2 linked regions of the Homo sapiens genome follow. The protein of the gene in region 1 purifies or fractionates together with the protein of each later gene. This does not show direct contact. Each region holds a gene or a part of one and is shown on either strand. Other genes may lie near its edges.

Region 1 (8,324 bases):
AAAATGTGGGGAGACTTCGGGCGTTCATTCTAATGATGCTATTACTCACATTTAGACCATGTTGCCAGCTATGTTTCCTTTAAACGGTAAAATGTAGAAGACTTTCCTTACAAATAATTTTTTAGAATATATACACCCATTTGCTTCCCACCTTGGAGTTGTGTTTTTCAGTAATCATAATCAGTTTATCACAAGAATGCTTGAAAATAAAAATATTTCAAGTTCTTTACCTTTTAGAATCACTGTTCTATTTGCACTACCTCCTGCATATTTTTAACAGACAATGAAATTGTTACTACTTCTTAACTATTTAACAACTGCTTATTAGTCTGAGAGTACTGACCATGTTCATTTCTAGGGATGATAATATAGACATATACAAATCTAAATCCAAATTTTGATCCTGATATTTAAGTTCTGAATATTCCTTAAAGTTCAAATAGTCTACAGGCTGGGAAGAATAAAAGATGGACAAGACTCTACCAATGAAATTAGTAAAAATGATCACATAAAACTTTTACAGTACATGAACCCTAAGCAATTTATTATGTCCTCTAGATCAAAGTTCTCTATTTCACAAAGAAATTTAGAAGTCTTCTTTTAGATTTCTAAGTTTAAGTGGGAAATTCATCTATAGCAAGTGACCCAATAGAATAAAAATTAACAGTCAATAGAAATGACCTATTTATTCAATGAAAGTTGCAAATAGTTGAAAAGGCAAAAAATCTAATTATATGTGATAGTTTAGTTACATCATAAATACCTCCTTTGAAGAATATAAATATTCAATATTGTGTCTACATGATACACTGTATCATGCATGGGTGCCTATAGAGACACTCACCCGTACAAATTCAATGTAAACAAATAGTAATGATTTGCTGAGATCTTTGTATGTATTACCAATTACAACCACAGGGGAAATTATTAAGGAACGTTATATTGTGTGACATTTTTCAGAATTATTTTAGCTACTAATATTTCTAAATATGATAGTCATACTAACAACCCTATTGATTATCACTTGCTTATTTAATTAGCTAGTTAGAAAAGCATGCCTCTGGGTGAAAAAAAAAAATGAAATTCCCACCAGGAGGAAAAAAGATGTTAACAGATTTGAGCATCAGAATAGGAAAGGGAAAAGTTTAGTTTAAAAAGAGATAATTGAAAAAAAAATACAAATAAAGTTCACAGCAGGAAGCTTGCCTATATAGAGAAATAGGCTACAGCCTGTTAATATGTAACTACCTTTTTATAAGTACAATCTGTTAACAGGCTTACAAATCAGCCTCAGAGTTGTATTTGCAAAAAGTATAATTAGAATTAAAGAATATTATCATTTAAGTGCTACTCTGTGCATTCTAGAAAACTTAACTGTGTTAAATTAGCAAATCGCTACATTAGGTAATGTACAGTATGTTCCACTATGAATAACTTCAACATCTACCTATGATATAAGGCTATATTTGCAAATAAAAGCTCACTAATTAAAGAGTTAATATATAGAAGTGAAAATTTTAATTCAAAACTGTTAAGAAAGCTCAAACATTCGCTGGAATTATCTAGTAAAGATGCAATTTAATTATTAAAAAAAAAAACACAGAAGAAATCAAAGAAAGATGACAGCACCGAAGTATATGTGTTGGCTATTTTACTTTCTTCCCTGATTTGATACTGGCTTTTCTAATATGTGACCACATTCAAGCGTTACTTTATCCTCAATACTCTTTTTCTCTTCCATTGCTTCACTTCTAGAATGTTTTAATCTTTGTCCTTTCTTTTTTCGTCTTTTCATATCAAATTCAGTCGTTTGAGCGATGAACAGCTTGACTTAGCATATTTTTAACCAGCTGGTCTAGCACCTAGCTTGCATTGCATAGTCAGATACAACAAATGTTTATACAGAAGGTAGCTTTCATGAAAATGAAAAAAAGCCTGGGTATCATGCATCCTGGCTTTTTTTAGCTTTTTTTTTTTTAATTCACCATACAGAATACAAAGTTTGAATTCTTTTTAATGGCAAACAAAATTCTATTTATAGTTCAAAAAAATGAACTTATGCTGGGATAAGAACTCAAATTTAAAAATTGCAATGTGTACTTATAGGAACATTAAGAGGGCTAAAATTCTTTCAAAGCCCTGCTTTACTTGCAACAACATCAAATAAAAGGATGCTGCAGATATTTCTCTAAATAGGAACAACTTAATTACAAATACACTATTCCCATCATAGCAAAAGGGGAAAATACAGTAAATTAAAATTCAGTCAAGACAGCTAACACAAAAAGTGGCCACTAAAACTTAGAAAGGGAACAGCTCCATTTATCCCCTTTTCGCCCCTATTTTTGACACTTAGGGAGTAATCTAATATAGCGATGATGTTAAATTTTCTTTGGGGGGAAAAAACGCTCTCTTATATCAACAAAAGGTCATGTGCTTTACTGAGCAGCTTCCAAAGTTTTACGGAAGGATCAAATAGGAACTTATAGCCTCCGTTTAAAGCACCACTAAAACCTTCTGTCACCCTAGAAATTACATGAGACAGAGATGCTGAAAATGGTAACATTCTGCACAAAAGCGTTTTTAAAAGGTGGGGAGAAAACAATCAATGAAGGAAGAAAGTAAGAGAGTGAATGAGAAAGACAGAAGCAGCGAGTTGGGGAGAGAGAGAGAGATGCTTAAGGTTCATTTAATTTGCTGTTATAGGACGCAACCTAAAAACATTAGCAGAAATCTCGGAGACTTTGCAAATCAGTTCAGTTTGGTCCGGGCAATCACAACAAAAAATCAGCTAACAAGATTGCAGAAGCCCTAGCTAAAGGCTTCTCTAACAAACACGTTTTGGGGGAGCATCTTCCAATGATTCAGAGACTACTGTAAAATGGGAGAGTTGTACTTCAATATATTAGGGGGAAAAAACTGTACTCACCTTTCAAACTCCTGAGGTAAATCAGGGTCAGTAAGCATGCTGGAAAAGCACAATTTCCCTTTGTCACAGCAGCCACCTATGATCGTCTCCAACTGAACCTGTCAAGTGAGTCCAAACCTTCTAAACCAATTGATTTTCTCTCTGTCTCTTCCCCCCCTCCCTCCCTCCCTCTCTCTCTCTCTCTCTCTCCCTCTCTCTCTCTGTCTCTCTCTCTCTCTCTCTCTCTCTCTTTCTCCCCCCCTCCTTCCCCTCCTCTCTCTCCTAGGACTCCTTGACCAGTCTCTTAAAGGGGTAGTGCACTTCCAGCAGCGGAGTCTGGCTGCTCCCCCCTCCGCGGAGCCACACGCTCCGGCTGCAAGGCTCTAGACAACCTCAGGGTGCCTGTCCTTTCCTTTTAATTCTCTCTTCTAGACATCACTGAATGTGAGAAGTCAACTCATTTAACACGTCTCCCATACTCTGTCTTCTAAATCATAAAACTCACACACACACATACACACGCAGAACAGTATGATTTTGTAAAACGTATTTGCTGCTGATTAAAAACCTAGTCTATATAATAACAGAAGCTCGATTAAACTGCATTTATTAACTAATTAAGCAAAAAATTTAATGTTAGTAATAGCATTTTTACACAAAGAATTGTTATTCCTTCTCACCCTTTTCTAGGCTCTCTCCGTTCACACACGGAAATACACGCACACACACACACACACACTCACACACACACAACAATCAGGCATTGTTCTGAGGGAAGAAAAGCAACTTTGACAGATTGAAATATAGCAGAGGCCCCTTCAAGGAAACCTGTAAACAACTTGTCACTCACTCTGTCGGTCTCACTGTTAGCTCGTGCTTTCCGCAAAGTGGTGCGAACGTCCTGGCAACCCGACCAAAGTTTCCTCAGCTCTAAACTCCATAAAACACGATGTGCGATGTGGAGGGGAATAGGTATCCACATGCCAAAATAACATACACGAGCGAACAAAAACCCAAAACGAAATCAAAACATAAAAACAAAAAGACGGTACTAACAAACTGTCCTGTTTGGGATCGCTGGGGAGGTCAGGAGTAGGAAGCGCCCCCCTGGCTGTGGATCTCTTTAATTTCCTCTGCCCAGGCAGCCACAGATAACAAGGTGGACAAACTATGGCTTTACAGATTCTAAGCTGGCTGGCAAGGCACAGCCTCCATAGCAGTTCCAATTATCTAGATAAAAATCTGGCAGCCGAGAAAGGTAATCAGGTAATGTACCTTTGACACGAAATGACAGAGGCACATACACACAGAGAGAGAGACACTTACACAGACATGCATGCAGAGATGGTGGCTGCCCCGTGCACCGCAGCATCTGGTCAGGGAGTAAGCACACACTTACCAACAGGAGATAGTGTGCATTCTTCACACACGCATGCACACACACACACACACACACACACACTCACTCACGCACGCTCTCCACTCCTACTGGGAGGGTTCATTCTGCACAAAAGGCTACATTACAGAGCCCGCCCCAATAAGGGAAAGAGAGGAAAAAAAAGCCTTCCATTGTTGAGAGGGCAGGTCAGTTGATTAGATTTTCTGTGGAGAATTCCACGAGGAAATTCCCTTCAAAGCCGAAGTGATTAACTGGGGGCTATTCTGGAAATGGAGCAGACAATGGCTCAATAGTCTGTACAGCCAATGTCCAGGCTGGCACTGAACTCACTTAAAAAAAAAATAAAAGCCAGACTCCCTGTTCTTTTCCACACATTCCTCCCCCCCAACCCCCTCCACTCCTTCCAACTTCCCCTCCCAATTCCTTTTATTTTGCAGCTGGACAACATTAAGGGCCTTTAAAACCACAAGGGTTGACCCCACGGCAGTTTGATTAGGTCCCACTTTTTTTTCTGGAGACAGGCAAACAGTAAGTTTACTTTTTTAGACATTCACAGTGATACATCATACACATATTCCAAAGAGAAAAAAATCAATTATGAACTTATATTAGTAAATTTATTTTTCATTCAAAGCTTATAAATTTTTAGACAAGTTGATAATAACTTAATATTTAATTCTATCATCAGGAGATGTTCTAAAAATATATATATACACACACACACACTACAAAATCAATGTGGAATAAGATTTAAGCATGTCACTATGGAGTTAAGACACTAACAAAACATAGAACTATGACCCACCCTGAAAAAGCTGTTAACAAGGGATGTGGCAAAAATGACTTGATGCTGACATGATTTTCACTTTCAGCAGTTGGGGAAGGGGGGAAGAATATTACTCACTATTCTTTCTTGTTGTTAGTCTCAAATTATTTTTTGTTACAGCAACAACCTACTCCCACACAGAAAAATGAAAAAATTGTTGCATTTATTTTAAATCTCTATTTTTTCAGCCCTTAAGGGACCTACAATCTAATATACTCTAATGGATAATGTATACAAAAATTATATTTTTCTTCATTTGTTAATGGTTGTTATGAGAATTAGGGTATAGTAGCTGCATAGCTATATACACTTTTAAAAATATTTAAAATTTTTTTCCTAACTAGGAAAAATCTTGCTTATCTTATATCAATAGAGAAAAAAAGTGAAGAAGGAGGATGGGTGAGTTACAGGGAGCCATGGGAGTGGAGTCAGGAAGAGGAGGAGGCGGGAGGAGAGGACGCAGAGAGAGCACAAGGAGACATAGTGGCAGCATAAAGATAGAAACAAAGATAATGGCCATAAGGCAGGATGCTGAGATCCGTATGGTCCCAGCTGCTGTCTTGCTACAGCTACTACCTCTGGTTGTTTCTTTGAAACTCTAATCTAGAAGGTCACCAGAGCAGGTAAGAAAGAGTATGAGTGTTTGAGGCCAACTATAGTATAAAGAAAAGATACTCATATTAGAATCTTCCTTATATTTGATTTTGATTTTATTGGCACTTAATATATGTATACATCTGTACATATGCCAAATAAACACAAAGAATATAGAAGAGAATGTTAAATGGTTTGAAAGTTAGTTTTTTGACTTCAATATATTCTGCAAACATTACTGTAGCCATTCAAAAGACAAATTATTTCTTGCACAATCATCTATGCTGAAGGAGTTGAAATAGACGAGGAACTAGACAGAAAATTTGCCAAATAATGATCATCCTAATAATGATAATTTGAACTAATGGAACTCTAAGATCATAAGGAATTTTGTTCACATAAATTAGCTCATGGATCTTACAGAGTAGAAAGGGGTAGGTATGTATTTCCCTAATTTTCCCACTGTTTAACTTGGGCAAACAGAATTTAAAGTCATTCAACTGGTTAGTAGCCCATTTGTTGCTTGAAGCCACTTCTATCTATTTCACTTATGACACCATAATGCAGAATAAACTGATCCTCCAGAATTTATAGTTAGATGAAAATCCCAAGATGGTACTCATACTTTAAGTGACCTGAAAGGCTTTCAGGTAATTGTTATAAAAAATAAAATTTATAAAAGCTGTCATTAAGCTAATACTGTATATGATGGTTTAATTGAATATTTTAAAATGTACCTCTCTAAGCCATAAAAGTTTTCTTTCATTTGAATCCTATATTGAAAATTAGCATTTCTGTCAGACTTTAGAATATCAGCAAAAGGAAAGACTGTTCCAAAATGTTTTGGTTAAATTTTGTCTTGGGTTATTTCATTAAATGATCAAAATGATCCAATCAATACAATGTTTAATATTAAAATACTGTTAATTGAATCTTTTAAATTTTGCATTAAACGTTAAAATGTTTAAATATTAAATATGTGTTCATGACTAGCGCATCTATTAAACCCAAATTCTTTTTCAATTATCAGAAAAGCTTAAGATATTCAATTGACTATAGATATTCTTTACATCACAACTAATACCGCAATGTGATGTTTGTTAAGGTTTCAAAATACATCTGGGTTGAGACATACTTTTGCATTCACTTAACATCTATTAAATGCTTACCAATATGTTAAGTGCTATGGCTTTAATAAAAGAATTTTAAAAAGTTATAACAATTCTAATTATATATATGTATATAAAACCAAATTTCAAATCAATTTTTGAGTATTCAAGCCTTCTGAGGCAGATGTAGTGAGAAAAGTTAAAACAAAAATAAAAAAGCAAATGAACAAAACATAGTGCTAAGAACTGAATAATACATAAAATGGTAAATAAGTATGATCTACAAGCACAGATACACAAATAAAATATATTTTCAGAGATGACCAAAGTGCAACAGTAACCCAATAAAAGTTTTACATTGAATGAGTCTTTTTGACACTGCCGCATCGGTATAATGGAAAATGGAATGAACATGAAAAAGTATGCTTTTGAGCTCATGTTGTTTCCATTGCAGATATAAAAAGGGGATTGACACAGGCTAAGGAATATAAGATATGCTAGAGAACACTGCTGGAAAATTCTCAAAGAGACTATCAAGAACTTTTAAAATCACAAACAAGTTATTTTCAAATTTAACCCCTTTTCAGGTATAGTTTCCAGCATGCATTTCTACTATTTTTGTCCTCATTTTAAAAGGATATATTTTCATTCCTCTATTTTAGATCAGAATCATTAAGTATCTTCTATTTTAATACCTGAAATAAAAATATGTGGTCATAGGTGCAAATTACACTTCCATATTTGATATGAATTCCTACCATCACCCTAGTTTTCACATCTCATAGAATTTGGAAAACTTATTTTGAGAAATAAAACTCTTAATATTATAATCACAATGTATTTAAAGCATATCAGTGTCAGACAATACTAACATTTTATTGCCTTAAGGTGACACAATGGGCATTAAGAAAATGCCTTTTGCCTGTGCTGTTATTTACTTTGTCACAAAAAATTAAAATTAAAAAGAGGACACTTCCTCTTTCAAAAAAAAAGAAAGAAAGAAAGAAAGAAGGAAACTTCCAACCAATATACATCTGTGAGTCATTCACCAGATGCCTGGTGAGCTCACTATTGACCTATCACATGTAGCTTAAAACTCTTAGACTAGTGTCTTGTAATAGTGGACTTCTTCAAAAAATACCTTAGGCATTCTATAGCCTATCTTCTTTTTTAAAGACCTAAAATTCAGTCCACCATAATACATGTATGCCAAGGAACTGGTACACAATAGCCTACAAATTCAAGGTTTTTCTAACTTCATACTCTTTCTATTGTCAGTTGGTTAGAATACACAGATGAATTGTTCTCAGATTGCATATTTGAAGAAACAGTGTTCTTCAGAAACACCTTCACCTTAGAAACTCTAGTTTCATACTTCTCTCAAAGAAATGATGTCATTTCCAGTAACTGCTTTCACTGTTTGATCTTAGGATTTAACTTCTTATTCAGAATAACTTGAAATAATTTTAAATAAAAGCTTTTATTTTA
Region 2 (7,763 bases), on another chromosome or scaffold:
TCTCGATCTCCTGACCTTGTGATCCGCCTGACTCTGCCTCCCAAAGTTCTGGGATTACAGGCGTGAGCCACCGTGCCCGGCCAGCTCAGATAGGGTTCTAAGTGTTTTACATGTGTTAGCTTGTTCACAACTACCTGGGGACATAGTTACTGTTCTCTCCATTTACAGATGAAGAAACTGAGGCCCAGAAACCGTAAGTTGTTTCCTCACTTTTCACAGTGCCCCTTCCCAAGGTCATAGGATTGACAGTAACTAGTGGAGCCAGAAAACAAACCTGGTATCTGATGCCAGACCTACCCTCCTAAACACAATGTCTGCCCCATAGGAGGTGTTTAGTGAAGTGATTCTGAGGTAGCCTGAAGAGGCTTCTTATAGGTTTTTTTTTTTTTTTTTTTTTTTGAGATGGAGTTTCACTCTTGTCACCCAGGCTGGAGTGCAATGCGTGATCTCAGCTCACTGCATCCTCCACCTCCTGGGTTCAAGCGATTCTCCTGCCTCATCCTCCCAAGTAACTAGGATTACAGGTGTGTGCCACCACGCCTGGCTAGTTTTTTGTATTTTTAGTAGAAATGGGGTTTCACCATGTTAGCCAAGCTGGTCTCGAACTCCTGACCTCAGGTGATCTGCCCGCCTCGGCCTCCCAAAGTGCTGGGATTATAGGCGTGAGCCACCGCGCCCGGCCTCTTGTAGATTTAATTGGAGGAACTGTCTAATAGGCCCCTCAAACTCAACATGTCCAAGATTGAATTCCAAGTCTCCCCTCATCCCTCTACCACCTCAAGCCTGCTCCTCTGAGTCCTCAGCCTCTCAGGAGTGCTCAGGCCAGAACCCTTGGCACCCTGCTTGCCTCCTGCTTGCCTCCTGTCTTTCATAGCCGACATCCAGTCAGCCAATTCTATGAGCTCCACCTTCAGATACAGTCAGAATCTGACTACTTCTCACTAACCCTACCACTACACCTCTGATACAAAGCCACCATTGTTTCTCTTGCTTGGATTATTACAATAGCCTCCTACTAGTGTCCTTGCTCCTAAGCTTATATCATACAGTCTTCTTAATTAACACAGTGGTCAGAGGGATCCTGACTTAAAACATAAGTCAGATCATTTCACTCTGCTCAAAAATGGCTCCTATCTCACTCAGTAAAAGCCTACAGGGTCCTACAATTTCTACTTCCTGTCCCCACATCTTCCCTCCTTACCTCTGTGCTAATCTCATGGGATTTGCCCTTCTGCTTACCTTTTTCCCCTGGCCTCCTTGCTTTCTCTGGAATACCAGACAGTCCTGATTCAAGATCTTTGCGTTTTGTCTTCCCACTCTCTTAAATGCTTTCCCTCCAGATATCACATGGTTTGCTTCCTCACCACCTTCAGATTTTAGTTTAGATGTCACCTTCTTGGCAAGGCTTTTCCTGGGCCCTCAATTTAAAGTTGCACAATGCCCCTTTCCAACCTCTGTCATTCCCTAATGCCTTTCCCTGCTTTACTATTGCTGTCATACTTCATCACCACCTAGCGTACTGCGTGCTTTGCTTATTTATTTGCTGATGTCTGTTTCCTCTTCTGTAAAATGGGGGGAATGTTGACAGTAGTATTACCTCATGGGTTTAGAGGATTAAATAAGTTAATACATGTAATGCCTTTAGAACAATGTCCAACACGTAAAGCATTATACCTGTATTAGCCATTGTTGTTGTTTTCTTATTATGAAGCAATATGCTAGATAATGGAATATAAGGTTACCCTCAAAAAAACGTACTCTCTTGCATTTGCAAAGCAGAATGGTGACTGCTTTCAAGTCTTAGTTGCTCAGTAATCACAATTTCAGCACCAATGAGTGATGCCCTGTTGATGAATGACACCCAGTGCCTCAGGTCTGAAATAGTTTCTGACACTAATAAGATATTTTGACTGCAAATGTAAAGCTTAAGGAGTTGAAGTTCAAAGATAGAGTAATCTATCAATTAGATTGATCACTAATCATTCCCCCACATCAGTTGTAATTCAAGTGTCATGCATAACCCTTGGTTCATGAAGAACTTGAAAATATTACCTGGCTGCAGGGGCTCTGAGTTATGGCTGCCCAGAGCCGCACAGCTCTGGACGGTAAATGATGATCACTAAGGCACAGGGCTGTGGGGGCCACGCTATGTTGACTTAACCCTGCTTTACATGGGTGGTAGTTTAGCAAGTTGGTTTGTCCCAGAGTCTCTCAGACCCACTGGTAGTAAATTACCTCCTTTACTCTCAAGCTTGCCACGAACAAGTGATCTACTACTAGCAAGTGAGCATTTTATTTCCAAAAGGGAGCATATTTTTCTCATCATGCTTCATTCATTTTTGAGGGCTCACTTATCATTATAATTGTTCACTTTTTAAGCCTGTGCCACAGACATCCACACACAAACACACTCAAGGTTCCAGTTTGCCCAGAATCAAGGGTAGATTGGATCCTTCTACTTCAAGCAAGGTCCACTTTATCCTTAGTTTACTCATTTGGTACTTTTTTTTTTTTTGAGATGGAGTCTTGCTGTGTTGCCCAGGCTGAAGTGCAGTGGCACAATCTTGGCTCGCTGCAACCTCCACCTCCTGGGTTCAAGCAATTCTCCTGCCTCAGCCTCCCCAGTAGCTGGGATTACAGACATGCACCATCACACTAATTTTTGTATTTTTAGTAGAGATGGGGTTTCACCCTATTGGGCAGGCTGGTCTCAAACTCCCGACCTAAAGTGATCCACCTGCCTTGGCCTCCCTAAGTGCTGGGATTACAGGTGTGAGCCACCGTGCCTGGCCCATTCAGTAAATATTAATTAATACATGCCAAGCAAACACTTCCTTGCCTTCAGGGAGCTTGATCAAGACTCTTCTCTCCCAAACTTAACGAGACTCTTATTTTTCCCAAATTAGCAATAATTTTGTCATTGCATCATGGAATACACCTTAAAGGAACCTGGATAATCTAATTCTAATGAACCATAATGTAGAATGTCACTCTGAGACATCAATGGAATTGCTCCCAGCCAGCCAGACATGCTAACTTTCTGTAAGTTACTAATGTTAAGCCCAGGGCAAATCAGCTTTTTCCTGGAATCATATAAACTTTCCAAATAATTATACTTCCCAGGTTAGTGAACTAACCTTCAATATTGAACATTTGTTCTAATCTTCATTTCTGTATTTGGCTATAAGAGCTCTGAAGATATGTATCTCAGTTCAGTTAGAGAGTTGGTGAAAGAAGACCTTTCAAAACACAGGCGAAAAGTATTTTCCTTCCATAATATACAGTCAGCTCTGGCACCTAGGGATGGATTTAGTTGCTCTGAATCTTTCATTTCTGTTAAGATGGAGTTTTTGCTGGCATGCTAATTATGTTTCTGTACAGTATTAAAATAGTAGCCCTTCAGAGTGTGCAGAATTGCTTCCTCTGTGTACAATATTGAGTGATTAGTTTTACTTAAATGAGTCTGATATGTTAGAAGAACCTGTTCGTGAAGAATTTTGGTTGTTGATGTATATTTTTTAAGTACCTCAGGAATTAAAGTATGTGTGCAGTGCCTTACATTTACGCAGATGAGGATATGTTTGTAGCCTTCTGGAGAGAACTAGAGAAGCCAACTTTTTAAAAATGGAAATTTGGAAATCCTTTGTGTGTGTGTTAAGGAAAGAAAAGTAAGAAGGAAAAAGAAAGTGAGCAACTGGGATTCAGGCAAGAATATCTGCTGTCATAATAATAATTTAAGTGACAGAGCAAGCTGCTGATAGGAGATGGTTATTATCCTGATAATATTGAATCTTCAGGTGGCATATGAAGTGAGTTTCCATAGTCCCTGAAAAGGAATATAGCAATAGAAAAATATGTTTCAGAGACTGAGATGATCTAATGAGCGATACTGATAGAGTATATTCCACGGTATCATTGGAGTTAGCCAGCCAGTGAGCTTACCTTCTGGAGGCTATTGAAATTAAAACTCCTAGGTTAAGTTAGTTTTTCTCAGGAGCCAGAAATGAAATTTAAAAACAAAATTTAAGCATATTAAATATTTTGCTCATCGGCTTTGTGAAAAGTTGAGATTACCAGCCCGGTTACCTGGTTCTAGCTGAACTCTAACAGGCTTGTTTATACATTATTTACTAATGTTTAGAATCTGAAATCCAAAATCACTTCTCCTCTTTTTCAATCATTATTTTCTTTGGTACAGGACTTGTTTACACTGGGCATGTAAACGAAACCATGGTCAGGTGGTCTCTTACCTGTTAAAATCAGGAGCTGACAAAGAAATTCTTACCACAAAAGGAGAAATGCCAGTCCAGTTAACATCAAGGAGAGAAATCAGGAAGATTATGGGAGGTGAGTCTGTGTTTGGGGGAACTTTTGATTTCCTCAGACTCATTGAAGACTTGTGGTATTATTGGCTACGTTCTTAATGCTGGTCAAACAACTGCTCTATTTCTTTCTTTTTTTTTTTTTTTCCGAGACGGAGTTTAGCTCTTGTTGCCCAGGCTGGAGTGCAGTGGCGTGATCTCGGCTCACCACAACCTCTGCCTCCCAGGTTCAAGTGATTCTCCTGCCTCAGCCTCCCAAGTAGCTAGGATTACAGGCATGTGCCACCACGTCTCGCTAATTTTGTATTTTTAGTAGAGACGGGGTTTCACCATGTTGGTCAGGCTGGTCTCAAACTCCCGACCTCAGGTGATCCGCCAGCCTCAGCCTCCCAAAGTGCTGGGATTACAGGCATGAGGCACCGCTCCCGGCAACTGTTCTATTTCTAAAAGCAAATTACTGTGCCAAGATAGTAATTCCAGATTGTTTCTGGGGAGGTCAGCATTGTAAGGTTTTATTTTTTTATTTGTAAAATTTAAGATAATGATAAAAATGGTAATCATAAACCTAATGAAGTATTCTTTTTTCTTCTGACCTGACACTGACCAATGTCACATACCAAAAGACACCACTTTCAAAAGACACCTTGTTTTGATAATTTTGAAAGGACTGTGTAAATGTTCTGTTTTCTTCTTTTTAAGTGGAAGAAGAAGATGATGATGATGATGATGATGACAACCTCCCCCAGCTGAAGAAGGAGTCAGAACTGCCCTTTGTTCCCAACTATTTGGCCAACCCAGCCTTCCCTTTTATCTATACACCCACAGCAGAGGATTCAGCCCAGATGCAGAATGGGGGCCCCTCCACACCCCCTGCATCACCCCCTGCAGATGGCTCACCTCCATTGCTTCCCCCTGGGGAACCTCCCCTGTTAGGGACCTTTCCCCGGGACCACACCTCTTTGGCACTAGTTCAGAATGGTGATGTGTCGGCCCCCTCTGCCATACTCAGAACACCAGAAAGCACAAAACCGGGTCCTGTTTGTCAGCCACCAGTGAGTCAGAGCCGCTCCCTGTTTTCTTCTGTCCCGTCCAAGCCACCAATGTCTCTGGAGCCTCAAAATGGGACGTATGCAGGACCAGCGCCAGCATTCCAGCCATTTTTCTTCACTGGAGCATTTCCATTTAATATGCAAGGTAACCCCTCATCAGCAAACAGCCTCTGCAACAGGGGAGTTGGTGTCCAGAGGGGTGGGATTTAATGAGGTATTCTGGGTATAATTGCAAACTTACAGAAACGTTACATGACTAACATAAGGAACTCCCTTTACTCAAATTCACAAATTGTTTACCTTTTGCCCTTTTACCCTGATACCCTTCAGTATTCTTTCCATTATATCTTTCCTAAGAACAAGGATATTCTCTCTTTTTTTTATTGAGACGTAGCTTCGCCCTGTCACCCAGGCTGGAGTACAGTGGTGTGATCTTGGCTCACTGCAACCTCCGCCTCCCAGGTTCAAGTGATTCTTCTGCCTCAGCCTCCCAAGTAGCTGAGATTACAGGAGCATGCCACCACGCCTGGCTAATTTTTTTTTTTTTTTTTTTTTTTTGTATTTTTAGTAGAGATGGGGTTTCACCATGTTGGCCAGGCTGGTCTCAAACTCCTGACCTTAAGTGATCTGCCTGCCTCAGCCTCCCAAAGTGCTGAGATTATAGGTGTGAATCACCGCACCCAGCTGGATATTCTCTTATATAACTACAGTACAAATGACCAAATTTGAGAAATGTAATCTTGAGCTAATGCTGTTCTGTAATCCATAGACCATGTTTAAATTTTGTCAGTTGTCTCAAACATTGCCTTTTGTATTCCCTCATCTACTATACGTACTGTCTGTACTATTACAGAAATAGTACTATCTGTACTATTGATATCTATCTGGACTATCTGTACTCCTCTGCCCCCTGCATCCTGCCCAGGATCATATGTTGCATGTAGTTATCACGTTGTTTTAGTTTCCTTTAATCTGGAATCTTTACCCTTTATCATTTTTGATCTTGATCTTTTTGAAGAGTCCAGGCCAATTATTTTTGTGGGATATGATTTTCTATCATTCTTTCTCTACTTATTAGTTGGTATTTTACTGTAAAGAAGGGCTTTCCCTTCTCCTTCATTCATATCAGTATTGACTCATATATTCTTATTTTATTCAGTGGGTTATAATCTGTTACTATCATTTTTTAATTATTCAAATTATCCCAGATTTGGCCAGTGGGAGCCCCTTGAAGCTAGTTCTTATGTCCCTTGCATGTGTCTTCATTGTTCTTGGAGCACTGCCTTACTTTCTGGGGCAGCAAGATGTTCCGGGCTTATAGCATAACTTTTCCTGCCCCAACCCTGGAATCAGTCATTTCTCCAAGAAGCCCTGGTTCTTTTTGGTGGAGAATGGTATTTAGGGCACACAGCAAACTTGCCTCCCACTTGGGCCCACCGAGAATGGTATTCAGACACCAGGATGTGGTCACTAGGTGTCCTCATTGCTACAGGTATATCATTTCTTCTAGGCCCGTTGAGAGGACATAGCCAGGAAAGATATCAATATTTCTCTATGTATAACTTTTTAAAAATATTAAAAACCACAAGTTCATCCTGATTCTTCCAAATCCAGTCAAATGCCATAGGGTGTAGCTAGTCTTACTTTTCCTTTTTTCCTGGAAGTAACTCTCTCACTTCCTGTTTTTGAGGAGTTACTACTGTAGGTGCTAACAGTGACCTGGGGTGCTACAAGGGATTCATATACAGGGAACAAAGCAGAACTGCCAAATGTACAGGGTGCTTGACTCAGGCTGTCTTGGCAGCCAGGTTCAGAATAAAGGAGCAGATTGCTTAGATCCCAGACCTATGAATAATAAGCCAAGACCCCTTCCTCATGAAGGTGTGCTACATTCAAATCAAGTTATACTTTAGCTTTTATTAGTAGCTTGTCATTTGGCTCTTTTACTGTCTTTTTTGCAAGGAGTTTCATATTTTACAGATACCTTTAGGTCCATAATTGTTAAATCTTTTTAGGGTAACTCACATCCTGCCCATGCCTTCTTTCCAACCTTCTTCCCTCTTCCCCTGTTCATGTATAGTTTGATACCCAAACCTGTTCTTAAGACTTTGCCTCCTTAGCTCCAATGGCAGAAGTAAATTATCCTTCTACATAGCTGGAATGGTTTCCCCTGCCTTGCTCTTACTTTGTGAACCATAGCCTTAGAAGTACGGACGACAGTGCAGGAAACTGCCCCAGCAGAGGCAGAGCTGGGCCTGAGCAAACCCTGCTGGCTGCACTTGGTTTTCCCACCAAACAGGTCTGTTAATCATGCACAGACCTTTGGCATGATTAAGTATAACCATCTTCTGGAAAAGATCTTAAACAACATGGGCTGTGCTGTGCCAGAACT

Evidence for each region. Proteins that work in one complex are often made in the same cells at the same time.
Region 2: the proteins of SOX5 (region 1) and ANKRD40 purify together in Homo sapiens (affinity purification with mass spectrometry; 2 studies listed by BioGRID and IntAct, with this or other methods). This does not show direct contact.

The regions. Positions count from the first base shown.
Region 1 is NC_000012.12:23,946,635-23,954,958, forward strand, and holds the start of SOX5 (transcription factor SOX-5), read right to left. Parts: upstream 3,037-8,324; 5' UTR 3,028-3,036; coding exon of another isoform or gene 2,968-3,027; coding exon 2,930-2,967; intron 1-2,929.
Region 2 is NC_000017.11:50,697,152-50,704,914, reverse strand, and holds part of ANKRD40 (ankyrin repeat domain-containing protein 40), read left to right. Parts: intron 1-4,198; coding exon 4,199-4,347; intron 4,348-5,021; coding exon 5,022-5,516; intron 5,517-7,763.